3 linked regions of the Homo sapiens genome follow. The protein of the gene in region 2 interacts with the protein of the main gene of each other region in a pairwise test. Each region holds a gene or a part of one and is shown on either strand. Other genes may lie near its edges. The genes, in order: SYS1, MCFD2 and SLC35A1.

Region 1 (4,636 bases), on a different chromosome or scaffold from region 2:
TAGCATAGTGGTCAAGGTGTCAGGCTCTGGAGGCAGACTCATTTGGCATTGAACCTCAGCTTTACTACTAGTCTAGTGACTTTGGACAAGTTAATCTACCACAGTTGCCTCATCAGTAAAATGGGGCTAGTAATATTACCTACCTCATAGTTGTAAGGATTAAATAAGTTAATTCACAAGAAGGACTTAGAACAGTGCCTTGCATGTTATTATTATTCTTGTCCTTACACCGGAGGTTGAAAACTGGTGGGCTGACTTTGACCTAAATTTGTCTTCCAGATAGGTTCTATTTGGCTTACATAGATGTCAGCCCACACATGGTGTTTAAAACATTTTTTTCACTTAGTTGAAAATCAGGCTATTTTATATAAAAATCCAGATTTCTGGCTTCTCTTGAATAATGGAATGACTGACTGATTCCAGGCCAACCTTCTAGCATGATAAGATTTGCCTAGATGCAAGTAGCTACTGCCCCCCTTTAGCTAGAACATGTATGCTTCAGGGTGTCATGATCCCCACCAATTCCTAGGATCCCCTAGTGACAATTGCCATCGATCATCAAGCTCATACTCAGTCAGCTTCACTCTTGACATTACCCGCCAGGTTCTTCTAGGCGTCTGGTATCATAACCCTTGCTTCACACTTATCTCGTCACTTCTGACCACTATGCTGCCGTCCTAATTGTCCCTACCCTCCCAAATAACCTAAGGCCAGGACAACCCAGTGACAACTCACTGCTGTCCTCTCCCCACAGTGCCCTGGGCTTGCTGTACTTCATCCGGCGAGGAAAGCAGTGTCTGGATTTCACTGTCACTGTCCATTTCTTTCACCTCCTGGGCTGCTGGTTCTACAGCTCCCGTTTCCCCTCGGCGCTGACCTGGTGGCTGGTCCAAGCCGTGTGCATTGCACTCATGGCTGTCATCGGGGAGTACCTGTGCATGCGGACGGAGCTCAAGGAGATACCCCTCAACTCAGCCCCTAAATCCAATGTCTAGAATCAGGCCCTTTGGACATCCTGCTGACACTTGGGCCCCTTAACACCTTGGGCTGCTCAGACCCTCCAGATGAGGTCCAGCCCAGATCTGAGAGGAACCCTGGAAATGTGAAGTCTCTGTTGGTTTGGGAGAGATAGTGAGGGCCTGTCAAAGAAGGCAGGTAGCAGTCAGCATGACAGCTGCAAGAATGACCTCTGTCTGTTGAAGCCTTGGTATCTGAGAGGTCAGGAAGGGGACCTCTTTGAGGGTAATAACAGAATTGGAACCATGCCACTCTTGAGCCACAATACCTGTCACCAGCCTGTTGTTTTAAGAGAGAAAAAAAATCAAGGATATCTGATTGGAGCAAACCACTTCTTTAGTCATCTGTCTTACCCCCCTGGGACAGCTGTTACCTTTGCAGTGTTGCCGAATCACAGCAGTTACCTTTGCAGTGTTGCCGAATCACAGCAGTTCTGTTGGAGAAACGCTTGGTTTCCGGATCCAGAGCCACAGAAAGAAATGTAGGTGTGAAGTATTAGGCTGCTGTCAGGGAGAGGATGGCAGATGGAGGCATCAAGCACAAGGAAAATGCACAACCTGTGCCCTGTTATACACACGTTCATGTGCACCCAAGAACCTATGACTTTCTTCCAGTTCCTTCTACCAGGTCCCCATCCTGCTGCCAGCTCTCAACATAGCAGGCCATAGGACCCAGAGAAGAATCCCAGCGTTGCTCAAAGTCTAACCATCATAAAGACACTGCCTGTCTTCTAGGAATGACCAGGCACCCAGCTCCCACTGGACTCCAATTTTTTTTCCTGCCTTATTTAGAATTCTTTGGCGGGAAGGGTATGATGGGTTCCCAGAGACAAGAAGCCCAACCTTCTGGCCTGGGCTGTGCTGATAGTGCTGAGGGAGATAGGAATTTGCTGCTAAGATTTTTCTTTGGGGTGGAGTTTCCTCTGTGAGGGGCTTGCAGCTATCCTTCCTGTGTATACAAATACAGTATTTTCCATGGTTCTGCCTGCACTTACTTTGTAATGCCACGGTTGAGATTGAGAGAGATCAGCGCAGCCAGGCAAGGGAACTTTAAAGAATTATTAGGCCACCTTCTCCCTTTCCTGGACCCCAGAGTCATTCCTCCATTTGGTTAAAATACTCAGTGCAGGGAACTCTTACATCCTGTCTCCTTCACTTGCAGCGTCCCCTGCTATGCCTCAGGTGAACCACATAATTCTTGGGTTTCCGTTCCTACTTGCTAGTGATTTCTGAACATGTTCAATGGAGCGGCACACAGTCTAGACCCACTTCCGCATTGAAACCTTCACTGTTCCTCTTTGGTTTCTTCAGAGCTTTCCCAAGAGAGCTGTCAGTTTTCAGCTGTCAGTAACACAAATGAGTTTATGGTAACACAAATGAGTTTTGCTATCTCTCTGAGAAGCTCATCTGACCTCCTGACTCTCAGCCCTACAGAGTAGGGAGTTGATGCTGACAGGATGAAGATTTAGGAATAAATATGCCTGGGAAGAGACTGGGAAGGTTCTAGGGTGAGGCACCTCAGTAACTCATGGTACCTTGGCCAAGTTGGAAGGAAGCAGTTTGTTAATGAGGCACAGTAATCCTGGCTGCAGGGTCTAGGAGGTAAGACCAGCTGGGATGACCTTCCCTGGGTTAATCAATTTCCCTCTAGACAACACAAACTGCAGGCATGTGACTAACTTTGAAAGAACACCCATCATGTGGCTGCTGTCACCCTTGACCAGCCGTGGTGGTGGTTACTCCATCTGTGGTTGGAGCGCCTCTTTGGGATTCACTTCAAGGTCTTGTGCCTATTTTTCTGCATATCTTCTGTGATGACAAATCTCTGTCCCCTGAGTGTTAATTTGATTTTTAGAAATGGCCAAAAGTCACGTGATCCAAACTTTTTTTCAGTAATATGGAGACTGAGCTGCATGGTAGTTGGGGATCAAAAATATGTGACCTTAATGAGATTTTTATGATTTCTAAAGTAACAATAAAAGCAGTTTTTAGAGTTGAGTTCCAGAGAGGGCAGGGCAATGGCAGTGACATGTTTGTCATTTTAATAATAAATAACATCTATTGAGTGCTTAAGAGGTGTCCAGCAGTGTGGGCTGAGTGCTTTATGTCTCTTTTCAAAATCTTCACAAGAACCCTCTGAAGTAAGAAGTAACGTCATCTGTATCTTACAGATGAGGGAGCTGTAAGGAACTTACCCAAGGTGACTTTTTAGGAGCTGGCAGAGCCAGGATTTGGGCTCTAATAGTGATATTAATAAGCTCATTTTGAAGAGGTCAGTAGTTAGGGATGTATAAGTTCTGACTGGCTAAACAGTCTGGTTAAATAGTTTATCACCTTATAATCATATCTTCTTGTCCTGTCAATTTTTTTAAATACCGAGGATGAATAGTACTTTATAAACATTACTAGCTTTCTAAGAAAAGCTGATATGCAGTACATTAAATATAGCCAGAGATTTCCTTTTTTTTTTTTTTTTTTTTTTTTGAGGCAGGGTCTTACTCTGTCACCCAGGCTGGAGTGCACTGGTGTGATCTTGGCTCATCATAGCCTCAACCTCCCAGGCTCAATGATCCTCCTGCCGCAGCCCCCCAAGTAGCTGGGACTATAGGCACATGCCACCACGCCCAGCTAATTTTTGTATTTTTATTTTTATTTTTATTTTTTTAGAGACAGGGCTTTGCCACTTTGCCCAGGCTGGTCTCGAACTCCTGGGCTCAAGAGATCCACCTGCCTCGGCCTCCCAAAGTGCTGGGATTTTACAGGTGTGAGCCACCAAGCCCAACTGGCCTTTTTTTTTTTTGAAACAGAGTTTCACTCCGACTTCATTACCCAGGCTGGAATGCAGTGGCCCAATCTCAGCTTACTGCAACCTCTGCTTCCTGGGTTCAAGCAATGCTCATACTTCAGCCTCCCAAGTAGCTGGAATTACAGGTTGGCACCATCATGCTTGGCTAATTTTTGTATTTTTCATAGAGACGGGGTTTCATCATGTTGGCCAGGCTGGTCTCGAACTCTTGGCCTCTCAAGTGATCCACCCGCCTCAGCCTCCCAAAGTGCTGGGATTACAGGCATGAGCCACTGTGCCCAGCATTGGCCAGAGATTTTCAGATGATCTTAGGAATGTGGGAAATCTATTTCCAAAGGATAAAGGAAGGTACCTAGATAAGAGAGTACTAGCCCACTACTGAGTTGGCATATCTCTTAACTCTCCAGGTGTCTGAAGTTGACCTCCCTTTTTCCCACCCACCACCTGAACTCTGGCCATTCAGAGAGAAAAGTGGAGACTCCTACATAGCTGATGGTCAGAATAGTTTATAACCCTTAAAGGAGGACAGGAAAGGAAAAAGGGATGTCTGGCTCAGAGGGTACTTCTAACCCCTCGCTCTAGGCAGCCCTGTCCATATCAGTGCCAAATGAGAGCCACGATGGCAGCCAGCAGACATCAGGGGGTACAATGGGAAGCTCCAGGACTCCCAGCATCCTGGAGGGTACACAGCTCAAACAGTCTCCCCTGGACAGGAATCCCCTTGGACTCCTTCCTCAGCAACTCCCAGGTCAGAGTAGCTTCCTTCTGCCAGCCCCAGAAGGCAGTCAGTGCACAGGTATGCAACACCTCCTTG
Region 2 (7,581 bases):
ATCAACAGTCAGACTTTTCATTAGGAGTGATGTGTGCTTTGATAAAGTCAGGGACGGAAGAAACAAGGTCATCAAATGCAGATGGCCATCATATTCACCACCCCAGTTTATAGTATATCTGAATTCAGAACAACACAACACATGCCAAAATTCCAAGCTTTTAACACCACAGTTCACCCTTATCAGAAATATGAATAAGGGAGAGAGAAATACAAAGCCCCATCCCAGCTGACAGGGGAGCCTAGAACATGCAACCCATTGAGGTCACCCTCATCCAATGCAAGGGTGATAGAGCAAGACCTTTTCTCTAAACAAAAGAAACTGCAGTTTCTTTGGTGGCAGTGTATTAAGTTCTCAGTTGGAGAATCTGGAAGCCGCACCCTTGTTTTTTCCTCTACTTGTGCAGAACGCACACCTTTTGCATCCTACTCCCTGTTAGAAGGAATTCCAGGGTTCAGAGATTACCACAGGGCCCAACAGCAAGAGACTGTTGTTAACCAGGCTTGAGATTTTAGGGACACAGGATTACCTCAATCATTTGTTAGACTTCTGATCAATTTCATGTATAGTAATCACAAATAACTTACCTAAAGTCTTATTTATTTATTTAGAGACAGAGTTTAGCTCTTGCTGCCCAGGCTGAAGAGCAATGGTGCGATCTCAGCTCACCTCAACCTCTGCTGCCCGGGTTCAAGCAATTCTCCTGCTTCAGCCTCCCGAGTATCTGGGATTACAAGCATGCGTCACCACACCCAGCTAATTTTGTATTTTTAGTAGAGACAGGGTTTCACCATGCTGGCCAGGCTGGTCTCGAACTCCTGACCTGAGGTGATTTGCCGCCTCGGCCTCCCAAAGTGCTGGGATTACAGGCGTGAGCCACCACACCCAGCCTATCTAGAGTCTTTAAATTGTTTTTATTCAATATTTTTCTATTTATTTTTCCAAATAAGTAATATGTAGTTTACAACATCAAAGCAATACTAAAAGGTGTAAATTGAAATCTTATTTTCACCCCTATTCTCATCCACTCTGGAATCCCCTACATAGGTAAAACATTGTCTTGAGACAATTCAAAACAGCTGAGGAAAGAGATGCCACCTAGAGGCCATTCTGGTATCTTGGGATGGCCGTCCTATCTCCTGATAAAGCCACCTCTCTGTCTCTACTTGTACTAGTTTCAACCTGAGTACACAAAGTAAATGGGGTATTTCAGCAAGGTTCCAAGTTATGAGACTCCTGGTTGCAGGTAAAGAGATCCTCTCTTACCTAGTCGTTACTTTCTTTAATCTCTGCTTTCAAATCAGTTATTTCCAACGTAGAGTTGCCCTTCTCTTGAAGGAGTCTGCTGAAAGCTACTAAAAAAGGCAACACTCACTAATGTTCCATATTGCTCGTGAGATTTCTCCAAAAATATAGCATTGGTTGGCATGTGGCCTATATCCAAGGTCCAGCAAGTGACAGTTTCACTACGGCTTATAAGGGTCACCAACTTTCCAGTTTGACATACAGTCTTTTAACACTGGCTACCTTAACCTCCAGTTAGCCAATTCCATATTTTAGTGTCTTGTTTTTAGCATCCTGCTTCTGGTACCAAATTATTTGCCTGTTAGGAATGGGTTCAGCTACAAGTTACAGAACACCCACCTATAAAATGGCTTAATCAAAGGTGGCTTCTCACTTATGGACTACAGTAGGGCAAGAATGGAAGCAGGACGGTCAGTTAGGAAGCTCTCTCTCAAGTAGTCCAGCAGCATCATCTACTACTGGACTAGATGGTTTAGTGGAGGTGGAAAGAAGTCAAAGACTCAGGATACATTTTGATAGCATCAACAGGCTTTGCTGAAGGATTTAAAGGTAAAGGGATGAGATAAATCAAAAACAGCTCGTAGAATTTTAGCTTGAACAACAGAATGAGTACCAGTGACATTTACTAAAATGCACAAGACTGAGAGAGGTGCAGGTTTGGGGGTGAAAATCAAGATTTTGGGGGGACACATTAAGTTTGAGATGCCAGTCTGACATTCATATGGAGACATCAAGTAGGCAGTTATTTACAGGAGCCAGGAATTACACAGAGAGGTCATTGTCAGAGAGACATATTTTGGAGTCATCTATTTATAAATGGTATCTAAAGCACAGGACTAGGTAAACTCACATAGGGAGGGTGGATAGAGAAGGTGACTCAGAACAGAACCCTGGACACTTTGATAATTATAGATTGAGAAGCCAATTAAGAAGCCCAAGAAAGGATAATGAGTGAGGTAGCAGAAGGACCCAGAGTGTGTGGTGTCAGAAAACAAGAGAAGAAAGTGTTTCTAAGTGAGAGTGGTTGGCTTTGATAAAACAGTGTTGAGAGGGCAAGTAAAATAAAAACAAGAGATCAAAGAGACCACTAGATTTGCATGGAGATTGCAGTTTCAGTGGTATGGTGGGGGAGAAAATACAGCAAGTTTATATGTTGATGGGAATTATCTGGTAGAGAGGGAGTGACTGTAGATTCAAGAGAGACATAACACAGGATAACATCCATAGGAAAAAAATGAAAGCACTGGCTAGAATGAGGACACTTTATCCATCTACCAGACACCAGCTTCTTGACACTTCATTTGTCTTATTTGTATCTCTAGTAGCTCCTAGTAGAGCGCCTAGTACATAGAAGATATTCAAGAAATGTTATTGAATGAATAAATGAACAAAGGGAGGGGTGGATGAATGGATGAAGAGATGGATGAATGGCAGATGCAGGGTAGAAGGAGGAACTAGATCAAACTAATCCAAAGTTCAGAGTAAGGAAAGAAGAATGGGTCTTGAATTAATAGGGTTTCCTCAAAACTTAGGGATTCTTTGTCCCGGCGCGGTGGCTCACCCCTGTAATCCCAGCACTTTGGGAGGCGGAGGTGGTGGGAGGATTGCTTGAACCCAGGAGTTCGAGACGAGCTGGGCACCATGGAGACTCTTTTCTTTAAAAAAAGAAAAAAAAATTAGGGATTATGGGATTTTTCTCTGGGATGGGGTGGCAGATTTCAATCTCAGATGAAGGTGGGAAAAGGAATGAGACCGTCAATGGCAGTGGCGTTAGGCAACTTTCAAGGCATCTAACTACTTAGCCACTTTCTTTGTCTTTCCTGTCCGGACCCAGGCTCATTTGAAAAACGATTATGTACCTTTATGGACAGAAATGGGAGAAGGGCTTTAAAAAAAACGACCGTCCTGCCGGGAGTGGTGGCTCACGCCTGTAATCCCAGCACTTTGGGAGGCTGAGGCGGGAGGATCAAGAGGTCAGCAGTTAGAGACCAGCCTGGCCAACACGGTGAAACCCCGTCTCTACTAAAAATACAAAAATTAGCCGGGCAAGGTGGCACGCGCCTGTAATCCCAGCTACTCGGGAGGCTGAGGTAGGAGAAGAGCTTGAACCTGGGAGGCGGAGGTTGCAGTGAGCCGAGATCCCACCACTGCACTCCAGCCTGGGACAGAGCGAGACTCCGTCTCAAAACAAAACAAAACAAAACAAAAAAACAAAACGACCGTCCTACACTCATTTATCCATCAGGTCAATGGATACTTACTGAATGTTAATCTTGTATAGGAGCACAGGTGTAAGGGCAGGATTATACAGGGATGAATTCGATACAGGGATGATGTATTCGTTTCCCTATTTGTTCATGAGTCTGTTTTTAAGTAATCTGTCCTCTCTTGAATGTCAAAAGCTGCTGATTTCACGAACGGTACATGGAAGATGGTATTTGAACTGGGTCGCATAGTCTTGCTGGGACTCCCGTGGAAGCGAACGGGGACAGCGGCTGCCGCAGCTTGTGCAGTGGAGCTGGCAGACGCTGGAAGCAGGCCAATCTTGAAACGTAGGGTCCAAGGCCGGCTCCAGCGTGTTGTGGTCGTTTCATCAAGAAGGAATTAGCATTCCTATTATCTTTCTTCCCAACTTGCAGCAGGACGAACCAAGAGACCTGAACCAAGAGCCCTGTATAGGAGGGGGTGAGCGGAGTTGGGAGCCAGCTTTGGGGTCCGCCCCATCCGGATCCGCCATCCTACGTCGCCCGTGGAACTACGTTCCTGAGGGCTTCCGGCGTTGCCTAGCAACTGCCGGGCCCCTAGGGCGTCCAGCGGCCCAACTGGAGTGGAGCCGAGTGTCGCCCTTGGGAAAGCAGGTAGAAGAACTGCGTCAGTCCCGCCAGTGCTGGGCCCGGGCCGATTACACGTGGACTCACGCGAGCCGTCCTCACAGCCCGCCGCCGCCAGCGGGAGGGGCCCGGCGGCGCCAATGGGCGGGCGGCAGGGAGCGCGCGTGCGCAGGGCAGGTCGGGGGGGGGGGGGGGGCGGGGCGAAGCCGAGGAAGAGCGTTTTGGGGACGGGGGCTGGTGAGGCTCACGTTGGAGGGCTTCGCGTCTGCTTCGGAGACCGTAAGGGTGAGTGAACTAGCGCACTCTCCGCAGCGGGCGGGATCCCGGCGCCTCTCCTGTGGGCTGGAGGCTTGGGCTCAAGATGAGAGGCAGGAGTAGTCTGGGGGCGCGGGCTGGGCCCCCAGGCCGTCTCGGGACGCTTAACCGGCTAGGAGCACGGCCTGTCTCCCGGGGCGGAAGCCTGTGCCCCACCGGGGGCTCTGGAGCCAGACGGGGCCGACTGGGCAGATCTCCGCCCCCTTCCCTGGTCCCTAGGGGCCCGAGGATCGGCCTGTGGGACCAGCTGTGTCGGGTGGACACTGCTCCTGGCCCGGCCCAAAAGCAGCGGGCCGGAAGCCTTACTCTCCCTCTGCTCCTTGTTCCCTCTCTCGGGGAGACCACAGGTCCTGTCGGGCCCGGCGGGGGAAGCTGATCTCCTGTTGTATTCCCTCTCTGGGCATGGCCATCCACCCGGGTGCCCAAGCCAGAATTGGGCATCATTCTCACTTGCTTCACTCCTTTACCCACCCACATCGAATCCCTTGCAAAGTTGTCTTGGATACGTTCATTCTCCAGTCCCATCCCCCTGCCCTACCTAGTTCAGGCCACCTTTTCTTCTCTGGACTACCTCGGTGTCTTCCTGATGATCCCTGCATCTCTTCTTCATCCTCTGTAGTTTGTTCTATACAGAGAGGCTACAGCCATGGTCTTAAAACAGAAATCTGATCATGTGACCAGAAGCGTCCCCCCATTCCCTTATCACCCTTTGGTGGATTCTCATTGCTCTTCCAAGCTCTTGAACGGGGCTTGCAAAGCCCTTCATGACCTGTCTTCCTTTAACTTTAGATTCATTTGTCTCGACTGTACTGTGTCTTCAACCATACTGAATCTTTTTTGGTTCTTAGATCAGAACAAGTTCCTTCTGGGCTTACATGTTCCTTCAGTATGTTCGCTATGTCTGAGGCACTGTCCTTTGGTTGAAATAATCCTTCTTATCCTTTATGTGTTATTTCAGGTGTCAGTTGGGGATTTCGTGGTACCCCATGGGTGTCTGCCTGCCGGTCTCTCTTTTCTACCAGGTTGTAATCTGTGTGAGAGGAGTTTGTCGAGGTCATAGTACTATCTTCAGTACCTTGTGCTGTTAGTACGGTCATTAAATGTATAAATGCAGCATGGGTGCTCCTTGGGCTCCCTAGATGAACAAATAGATCAAGTTATTAATATTAAATGCCTGCTTTTTCAGAACCAATTCTCAACCCTCAGTCCGTGTAGAGGTTTCTTTAGCTTAGGAAGTTGGTTATTTTCTTGCCTTCATTCCAGGACCATGACAGGGGTAAGTGACAAAGTACTGGTCAGTTTTTCTTTGGCATTGGCTGTGGGTACAGGATGTCTGGATGTTGGTGAGTTTGGCTGCTTTGGGTTTGAATTCTTAACCAAGGGCCCCTTGAGGGAGAAGCTGCTACTAGCTGCTGGCAGGAAGGCTGGCCCCAAACTTAGTGCTGATAGGACTGATGACACACCAGGAAGAAAGGGTTGGGCCAGGTCAAACCACTGGAAGCCTCCAAAGGAAGTTCCAGCTTAGGCTAGATCCGCTGTGGGATAGGGAACAATACACCTAGGTGCCAAGACTCACTTCCCTGATTCAGCGATGAGCCAGGTCAGCTCAGCAGAGATCAGTAAGGTAAATGAGAGCCAGAGGAGAGAGGGTCCTGACTCTCAGAGAGGGAGGAAAAGAGAAAAATGGAAAAGGAGAACAACCTGTGATCGTATGTTCAGGTCAAATGAGTGTGAGAGGCTACAGACTGAGGTCGGATGAGAGAGCAATTGGTCTTGGCTGGAAGAATCCTGAGGTGACATTTGAACCTGTCCTGGAAGGAAGTTGGAGATGGACAGATGGAACCAGTAGGAGCGGAGGCTGTGGTACAGGAAGAGGCTGGCAGAGCAGGAGGGGAGCACTGTGACAGCCAAGGCACTGGGAGGCGCACTGCTCCTGATGGTCCAGCACTGCCCTCCCAGGACTGAGGCTGCGCCTTGTGAGGGCTGTCTCAAGGTATGGGTTGTGCCCTGAAGTCCCTTTGCAGAAATTTCTCCTCCGTTGGGTTTTTCTTCAGCCTGGCCTTTATAATTTCCTAAAGAAGGCCAGTGAGCTGGGGCTTATCTTCAGGCTGTTAGCCCATGGCCTTGAGCTAAGTAGTTAGAGCATGGATGATGCAACCTGTTATTTGGGTAGAGGGAGTTGCTTATGCTTTCTCTTGACTGTCAGCAGTTTAATTTGTTAGGTGGCAGTTAGATTCCCTGTTTTCTATCTTTCCCTCCCTCGCCTGCCTTCTTTCCTTTCTTCCTCTCTCTCTCTCTCTTTTTCTAATTAGAGAGGGAGTCTCACCATGTTGTCCAGGCTGGTCTTGAACTCCTGGGCTCAAGTGATTCACTTGCCTCAGCCTCTCAAAGTATTGAGATTACAGGCATAAGCCACCATGCCCAGCCCGATTCCCTGTTTTCAGTGTACCACTTGGAGGAATTTTTTTTCTTTATGTTTATCGATTTGGCTTTTGTTGCATTCCAATGATTAGAAACCTGCAACAGCAAACCAAAATGAGACAAGTTCAAAATCAGTGATTCTTGGCCTTTATCCCACCTCCCTTAAAGAAGGGATATTTTGGACTCATAGTTACTACATGATTAATCACTTGGTTGCTTTTTGGTGTTATCTAAATAGAATTTCCCCCACCCCCAACACACACACACCAAATTGATATACTAAGCATCCAATCACATAGTTGGAGGAAATGGTGCCATGAGTTCCATGATAGATATCTCCAAAAGAAAAGTTTCATCTTCAGTTACAGTGACATTAAAAATTGGCAGCATATCTGCAAAGGTGGTAATCCCCCCAGCTCCCCAAGGACCATGGCACACAGGCTAAGAACCAGCAGCTTCTGTTCCAGGCACTGTGCCTGATACTGGGAATGTGGATTCAGTCCAAGTCCTCTTAAAGCCCATCCAGCAAGGGGCACTGACAAGTAATCAGGCAGTTTTTCAAGAATTCATTCACACACAAGAAAACAAAAGAAAAAAAAGAATTAATTTGCAGCTGTCATCAGCTGTGGACGGGAGCCTTCTGAAGGGAAGCACTTGGGAGCCTGCAGGACGAATACCTACACCAGACTTGGAATTGAAAAGACCTCAC
Region 3 (8,082 bases), on a different chromosome or scaffold from region 2:
ATATATGTTTTTGATTATATACGCTCTTTTGTCCTAGCTAGCAGTGTCATTTATATAATTAATAAATTTGTTTTTAACAGAGGTGCTCATTAAGGTGCTTGTGATTTGATTTCTAAGAAAGTAAGTTGAGGGCCAGGCGTGGTGGCTTACGCCTGTAATCCAGCACTTTGGGAGGCCGAGGTGGGTGGATCACTTGGTCAGGAGTTCAAGACCAGCCTGGCCAACATGATGAAAAACCCCATCTCTACTAAAAATACAAAAAATTAGCCAGGTGTGGTGGTGTGCACCTGTACTCCCACTTACTTGGGAGGCTGAAGCAGGAGAATCACTTGAACCCAGGAGGTGGAGGTTGCAGTGAGCCGAGATCACACCACTGCACTCTAGCCTGGGTGACATGGCTAGACTCCATCTCAAAAAAAAAAAAAAAGAAAAACCCACCAAAACAGAAAATATAAGTTCCGGAAAATGGAAGAAAAAGTAACCTTTTTACAATATATTACAGTATATTTAGGACTGATCATTTGTTTCTATCTCTTTCATAGTAAAACAAAACGATGATTACTAGTGTTTTCTAGCAGATATATTGCTCTTGTTACTTTTATGTAACTTCAGTGAGTAAAGCTAAATATAAGATTAAGAGCTGTATTCTTAATAAATACATTAACTTAAGCAGGATTTAACCTGATTAATACTGAAATTATTTACCCTCTTCTTTAAAACTTTCTGTGTGGTGAGATTCCCACATATTCTTTCCAATACCTCCTAAATCTCCTCTACTTTCTGATACTTTTCTGTTATTCTCTTTTACTAGTTCTTTTAGCATCCTCTGTTTTTTTTTGTAACTTATTTCAAAATATCTTATGTAACATTGCTATAATCTTTGGTACTACAGTGATATTTGCACTTTCCAGCAATTAACATTCTGGTATACCTTGGTTTCTCTAATGTCTACATTAGAGAAGGAACCAGAAAAAGATACCTTGGCCATCCTGACCGTGAAAAAATAGCTCCTAAGCATCCAACAAAAAGGATATGGCCAAAAGAGACAGATCTGAAGGTTAATCCTGACGCACTGTACTTTACTTTTTGCTCCACTGAAGGAAAGGAATACTCAGATTGGCTGCTAATTTGTTTCATAAGCCCTTCTTTTTATGTGAAAAGTGAGGGAGAAGTGATAAGAAAGAAAAGAGTGGGGAGAAAAGGGACCACAGCAGCCTTTATTGGTGCAGGTATCGTGATTATTTGGAGTAGCAGTTGGATCCTTAAGTAGCCCATATTCTGACAGGACAAAGAGAATCAGCCCTGTTTTTTGGAGAGTCAAAAGGTCGTTTGTTACCAGTGAAGGCTTCTAATGTCTTATTTTTTTCTTTTTTTTAAAAGAGATGGTATCTTACTCTTTCACCCAGGCTGGAGTGCAGTGGTGGCATCATAGCTCACTGTAGCTTCAAACTCCTGGGCTCAAGTGATGCTCCCACCTCAGCCTCCTGCGTAGCTGGGATGATAGGCATGTGCCACCACTCCTGGCAGTTTTTTTTTTTTTTTTAAGAGAAGGGATTTTCCTCTGTTACTTGGGCTGGTCTCCAACTCCTGGCCTCAAGTGATCCTCTTGCCTTAGCCTCCTGAGTAGCTGGGATACAGGTGTGAGCCACCACACCCACCAAGGCTATAATATATTTAACAGGTGGAGGTAAAGTGGCATTGCCCATAGCTGGGGATTAGGGAAAGGATAAATAGCCATTATATTGTAGCTTTTGAGGGTTTAGCATGAAGAATCTTACACCAGGAGATAAATGAATATGGGAGAAGGTGGAGTGTGAAGCATGGGCACAAACAGCCACCTCTCAGCAGTTCCTTCTGGGTATCACCTTAAAGACACATCATCAGTGTATGAGTCAGCATTTTAGAAGGGCACTAAAACTTGCACTTCATACAGTCTGTAAAATTTATATCTATGCTATCATGATACTAGAGATAATTATAATGTTCAGTTATCTTCTCTGATACATCACCTTATTAAGGTGATTATTTTACATTTTAATCTCTTTTTCTCTAATTTTTTCATCAGTTTTATAATTGAGGAGAAAACATTTTGAAAATTATTCTTTATACTCTATTTAAGATGTTGGCCAGGTGCAGTGGCTCATGCCTGTAATTCCAGCACTTTGGGAGGCCGAGGCAGGAGGATCACTTAAGGTCAGGAGTTTGAGACCAGCCTGCCAACATGGAAACCCCGTCTCTACCAAAAATACAAAAATAAGCCGGGCGTAGTGGCCTGTGCATGTAGTCCCAGCTACTCAGGAGGCTGAGGTAGGAGAATCCATGAACCTGGGAGATGGAGGTTGCAGTGAGCCGAGATTGCACCATTGCACTCCAGGTTGGGTGACAGAGAAAGACTCCGTCTCAAAAAAAACAAAACAAAACAACAAAGATGTAAGGAAAGTATATGGGGCATCTTAGATTTGCATTAAGCAGTTAAAAAAAAAGGCAAACATTAGTTTAAAGAGCCAATCTTCAGAAGCCTGGAAAACTCTCCTACATAGATTTTTTGGTGGAAAATCTGTGGTATTTTTGGTATTCTTCTGCTTTTCGAATAGAGTTTGTAGTCCACCACTAGGCTGTGTGCGTTCCTTTTCAGCATATAGACTTAACACTGTGGTGTGGGTTTGGATTTGGTAATACAAAGAGATCTGTAACTAAGAAGGATGTCTTTTGTTTCTGTGGCTTAGGTCAAAGTTCCTGTCTTATTAATTAAGCATTTTCTTGGAGGTAGAATGTTCTACAGCAAATAAATAGGCACAGGTTAGTCAATTTAATATAATGGACTTTTGCTTTCTCTCAGAACTTGGGCAATTATATTTGCAGCATTTAAAAATGAAAAAATTCAACTCACAACTGTTGATTCTAATATATTAACCAAAAATACAGAATCTCATTGTAATTATCAAACTTTGAGTTGGAACAGAGCTATTTCACCAACAAAGTATTATGGTTTTCTTAAGGATATCGTGAGCTGCAGTTAGGACCATTATTATAAAGCACTTCTTTTGGGGTATTGGTGCTTATTATAAAACATTGCTTTATTTTTACTTTCAGGAAATCAATGAGCTGATTTATGATACAGGAAATACAAGCCAGATTAGCCACGTCCTTCTGAAATAATAATAGCAAAAATAATAGTTAAGAGCATGCATAATCAATATGCAGTCAAACAGTAAACTTTATGTACATTAGAGATATAGTTTACTTTTGTTGGAGTTAGTAAATTATTCAGATCTGCTACAGAATTATACAGATATAAAGTATGAGAATATTCTTACATAAGGATTTATTATCTACTATATTTCATAAGTACTAAATTCATTTATAAATAATACTGACCTGACTCTTCCTAACCCACTTAACGAACTACCAAAGCCTTTTTATTTGCAATTAAATCTATTGTAATTTAAAAAAAACTTTAAAAATAGGCCAGGTGCAGTGGCTCACGCCTGTAATCCCAGTACTTTGGGAGGCCGAGGCGGGCAGATCACTTGAGGTCAGGAGTTTGAAACCAGCCTGGCCAACAATACTAAAAATACAAAAAATTTAGCTTGGTGTGGTGGTGGGTGCCTGTAATCCTAGGTACTCAGGAGGCTGAGGCAGGAGAATCACTTGAACACGGGAGGTGGAGGTTGCAGTGAGCTGAGATAGCGCCACTGCACTCCAGCCGGGGCGACACAACAAGACTCCATCTCAAAAATAAATATAAAAATAAAAATGGATATGCAAACTGATCAATTAAAAAGTAATCAGGGTGAACTTGATGAAATAGTTAAAGTAGCAGGGGATGAATTTTTTTATAGGTAATATCAACAGTTTTCCTAATCTCATTATTCAATATACTCAGAATCTCTCAGAGCTTTGACTAGAGATAGTGGTAAATCTAGTTGTTGTCATATTTTCCCAAACAGAACTATAATTTTTTAAAGAGGATACATTATTGGTATGTTTCTTTTAATCTAAAACTAGTTAGAAATTATTAGTTTGCTAAATTACAGCAAGCATAGTATGCTTGTCCTGTGTTTGAAGAAGTCTTATTAAAATAATACTCTTTAATTTTCTTCCTTACCACCCTCTCATCTCCCCCTTTTGTTTTCAAAGAGAAACTGGTAGTCTGGGTAGATTCAAAGCATCTTTAAGAGAAAATGTCTTGGGGAGCCCCAAGGAACTGTTGAAGTTAAGTGTGCCATCGTTAGTGTATGCTGTTCAGAACAACATGGCTTTCCTAGCTCTTAGCAATCTGGATGCAGCAGTGTACCAGGTAAGTGGAGTTAATGATAATGAAAAGCACAGAATCTTTTATGGTAAAAAGAGTTTTTATTAACTCTTTATCATATTATCAATTTTTTTTTTTTTTTTGAGATGGAGTCTCGCTCTTTCGTCTAGGCTGGAGTGCAGTGACGTGATCTCAGCTCACTGCAATCTCCGCCGCCCAGGTTCAAGCGATTCTCCTGCCTCAGCCTCCCGCGTAGCTGGGACTATAGGCACATGCCACCACACCCAGCTAATTTTTTGTATTTTTAGTAGAGATGAGGTTTCACTATGTTGGCCATGATGGTCTTGATCTCCAGACCTCGTGATCCACCACCCGCCTCGGCCTCCCAAAGTTCTGGGATTACAGGTGTGAGCCACCGTGCCCGGCCATTATCAAATATTTTTTATTGATAATTTTATCAATGATACCAGAAATAATATATTTGTATCAGAGACTAACATTAACTGAATTTATTAATTCATTCTCTTTTTTTTAGGTGACCTACCAGTTGAAGATTCCGTGTACTGCTTTATGCACTGTTTTAATGTTAAACCGGACACTCAGCAAATTACAGTGGGTTTCAGTTTTTATGCTGTGTGCTGGAGTTACGCTTGTACAGTGGAAACCAGCCCAAGCTACAAAAGTGGTGGTAAGAAACAAAATGCACACCATAACTTCCCATAAATAGAAAACTTCCTTAAGTCTTATACTGTTCAGTTACATTGATGCATGCAGCATGACTACATTTCTTTGATTTAAAATAACTTTTGCCTTATAGATAGGCCTTTTTTCTTTAGCATATTATTAGGGATAATAATACTTATTGGTTGTTTCTCAGAGGAGAATATGCATAAAATATGTTACAGATGGAACATACCTTAGAAATAATGTGTTCCATCCCCTCCATTTTATGGATGACAGTCCCCAAAGAGGTGAAGGAACTTGTCCTAAATTAGTTAATAGCTAACTTGTGACCACAACTGTGCCAGTTTCCATACTGTATATGTTTAGAACTTCTAGACCTCTTTCAAACATCTCAGAAACACTGGGCAAGGTTTTTCTGCATCTAGTTTTCATCTTCTCTCTCAACTGTCAGTCTCTGGCACATCTCCCTACTGTCAGTGATCAGGATGACAAGGGAAGGAGTGTTCTTACTGATAATTGATAATTATCTTTAGTTTTTAAGAGTTAATGTGAAGGTACATAACAGATTTTTAAAGAGTTAACGCTAAGATACATACATGATTTTTTTTCTTACATTGTATGCCTCAATCAGTTATTTCCCCAAAGAGAAACAGGAAATGGGATGCCAGTGAATAGTTTTGTGAAGGTCAGGAGTTTCCTACAGTTGAATATTTACTCTAACTTTTAGCAAACAGACTATGGTTCTCTTAGGAATGGAAGGCGGCTGGGATGTACAGTGCTTGTGAACAGTATCATATCCCCACCCTCCAGGTCCCCTCCTTCCCCAATTAAAACCCTACTGTTTCTTTCTATAATATGGTTTCTAGACAGACTTCCTGATCCCTGCCTTCTGCCCCTACACTTTTCCTTATATTTTTCTCCTAGATGCATTCATCTGTCATTATTTCTCAATATATCCTAAAACCCCACTGTCTCCCAATGTTGTCTAAGTAATACGAGGCACAGTTTGGTAATTACCCCTTTGTTCTGAATACCGGAGACTTGTTATACAGTCATGCATCGCTTAACAAAGAATGTAAGTTCAGGGTTCTGAGAGATGCATCATTAGGTGATTTCACTGTTGTGCAAACATCATGGAGTATACTTACACAAATCTAGATGGTATAGACTACTTACTACACATCTAGGCTGTACAGTATATAGCCTATTGTTCCTAGGCTACAAACTTCTGCAGCATGTTACTGTGCTGAATACTGTAGCGAGTTGTAACACAGTGGTAAGTTTAGCGTACCTAAACATAGAAAAGGCACAAATATAGTTTTATCTTACAGGACCGCTGTTTTATATGTGGTTCATCATGGACTGAAATGTCATTATGTGGTACATGACTGTTAATTTCTGGGGGGCAGGCAAAGTATCTATTTTACAATTGATCATAAACCACTACATGTAACTGTGTCACCCAAATAGTTTGTCTCAAATGTATCTTGTATCCCTCTCACCCCACTGTTCCCTCAATCTGTCTGCACTGCCATGCACTCCTCCACTACTGGTTAAGTGGGTTCCAAGTGTCAGGACTGGAATAGACTCTCATTGACACTAGAACTCAAACTCTGGCTTATTCTAAACCAGAATGCAGGTTGAGTTTGTATTTATTAAGCTCTTCTTGTTAGCTTTGGGTCATTGCTCAGCCCCTTGAGTTATTTCCAGTTCTTACCCATTATTAGCTTCTCCTTTGGGTATTACGCTTTCCAGAGTCAAAAAAAATATGCCTTCTGGGTCTTTAATGAAAATTTTAGGTAGAACAGGACCAGAGTTCTGTGGCTGTACCTTTAGAATTCTCTCTAGCTTGATCTTTTTCTTGCTTACTGAACATATCATCTCTCATAGTTTTTATGGGTCAGGAATTTGAGGGTGCCTTAGCTAGCTGGTTCTGGCTTGAGGTTGCAGTCAAGATACTGGCTAGGGCTGCAGTCAACTGAAGACTTGACTACGGCTGGAGGATCTGTTTCTAACGTGGCTTATCTATATGCCTGGCAAGTTGGTATTGGTTGATGGCCTAGCTTGATTTTGTTCAATTAACTACCATTTTTCTGTATGAGCATTCACACACTTACGGATTGTACCTTTATCCTCACTACAGTTCTGTGTTGTCTATAAAAATATTATGTGGCTGGTCGCAGATCACCAGGTGAGGAGTTCGAGACCAGCCTGGCTAACATGGTGAAACCCCGTCTGTACTAAAAATACAAAAACTTAGCTGGGCGTGGTGGCAGGCGCCTGTAATCCTAGCTACTCAGGAGGCTGAGGCAGGAGAATCGCTTGAACCTGGGAGGCAGAGGTTGCAGTGAGCCGAGATCGCGCCACTGCACACCAGCTCGAGTGATAGTGCGAGACTCTGTTTCAATAATAATAATAATAACAATAATATGCAAGTCTGTCACATTTTTTGCCAAACATTATCTCTATGGAATTCCCCTCATCACTTAACATTAGGAGTCCTTTCAGTAAGGAAATCTGGTATGTTTCACACTTGGTGAAGTCACACTATTTTCCACTGATGACCATTAAGCTTTTTAAGTACAAGTCATCTCTAAATCTGTTCTAACATTTTGCTGGTAATCAATGTAACAATAACAGCTGCAATCATTTATAATGCACTAAATACTAGCATTATCTAAATGCTTTATATACACTAACTCACCTACTTTTCTTGATAGTCTTTTAAATTTATTTAGCTAGGTAGTCTAGGCGGGGAGAATTGCTTGAGCCCAGGAGTTCAAGACCAGCCTGGGTAATATAGTGAGACCATGTCTCTACAAAAAAATTTAAAACTTAGCTAGATGTGGTGATGCATGCCTGTAGTCCCAGCTACTTGGGAAGCTGAGGTGGGAGGATCACTTGAGCCGAGGAGGTTGAGGCTGTAGTGAACCATGATTATACCACAAGATCCTGTCTCAAAAAGAAAAAAAAAAAAAAAAGCTTTCTTTAATGCCTTACAGGATTTTTTGCAAGCCTCCACTTATTCTGAGTTTTCGATTTCTTGATACTATTCTTAAATTCCTGGTTAGATTCCTCTTGGTGATCTGTACTTCGGCTTTGTTCTTGTAAAATCAGAATTCAGTGAAGATGCCCTTATTTAG

The links.
Region 1: the proteins of MCFD2 (region 2) and SYS1 interact in binary tests that used the Homo sapiens proteins (3 or more experiments, as listed by UniProt).
Region 3: the proteins of MCFD2 (region 2) and SLC35A1 interact in binary tests that used the Homo sapiens proteins (3 or more experiments, as listed by UniProt).

The regions. Positions count from the first base shown.
Region 1 is NC_000020.11:45,366,121-45,370,756, forward strand, and holds the end of SYS1 (protein SYS1 homolog), read left to right. Parts: intron 1-754; coding exon 755-995; 3' UTR 996-3,089; downstream 3,090-4,636. UniProt on the Homo sapiens protein: Involved in protein trafficking. May serve as a receptor for ARFRP1.
Region 2 is NC_000002.12:46,912,563-46,920,143, reverse strand, and holds the start of MCFD2 (multiple coagulation factor deficiency protein 2 isoform A precursor), read left to right. Parts: upstream 1-4,337; 5' UTR 4,338-4,421; intron 4,422-7,581. UniProt on the Homo sapiens protein: The MCFD2-LMAN1 complex forms a specific cargo receptor for the ER-to-Golgi transport of selected proteins. Plays a role in the secretion of coagulation factors.
Region 3 is NC_000006.12:87,496,368-87,504,449, forward strand, and holds part of SLC35A1 (CMP-sialic acid transporter), read left to right. Parts: intron 1-4,140; coding exon 4,141-4,300; intron 4,301-4,790; coding exon 4,791-4,943; intron 4,944-8,082. UniProt on the Homo sapiens protein: Transports CMP-sialic acid from the cytosol into the Golgi apparatus, functioning as an antiporter that exchanges CMP-sialic acid for CMP. Binds both CMP-sialic acid and free CMP, but has higher affinity for free CMP.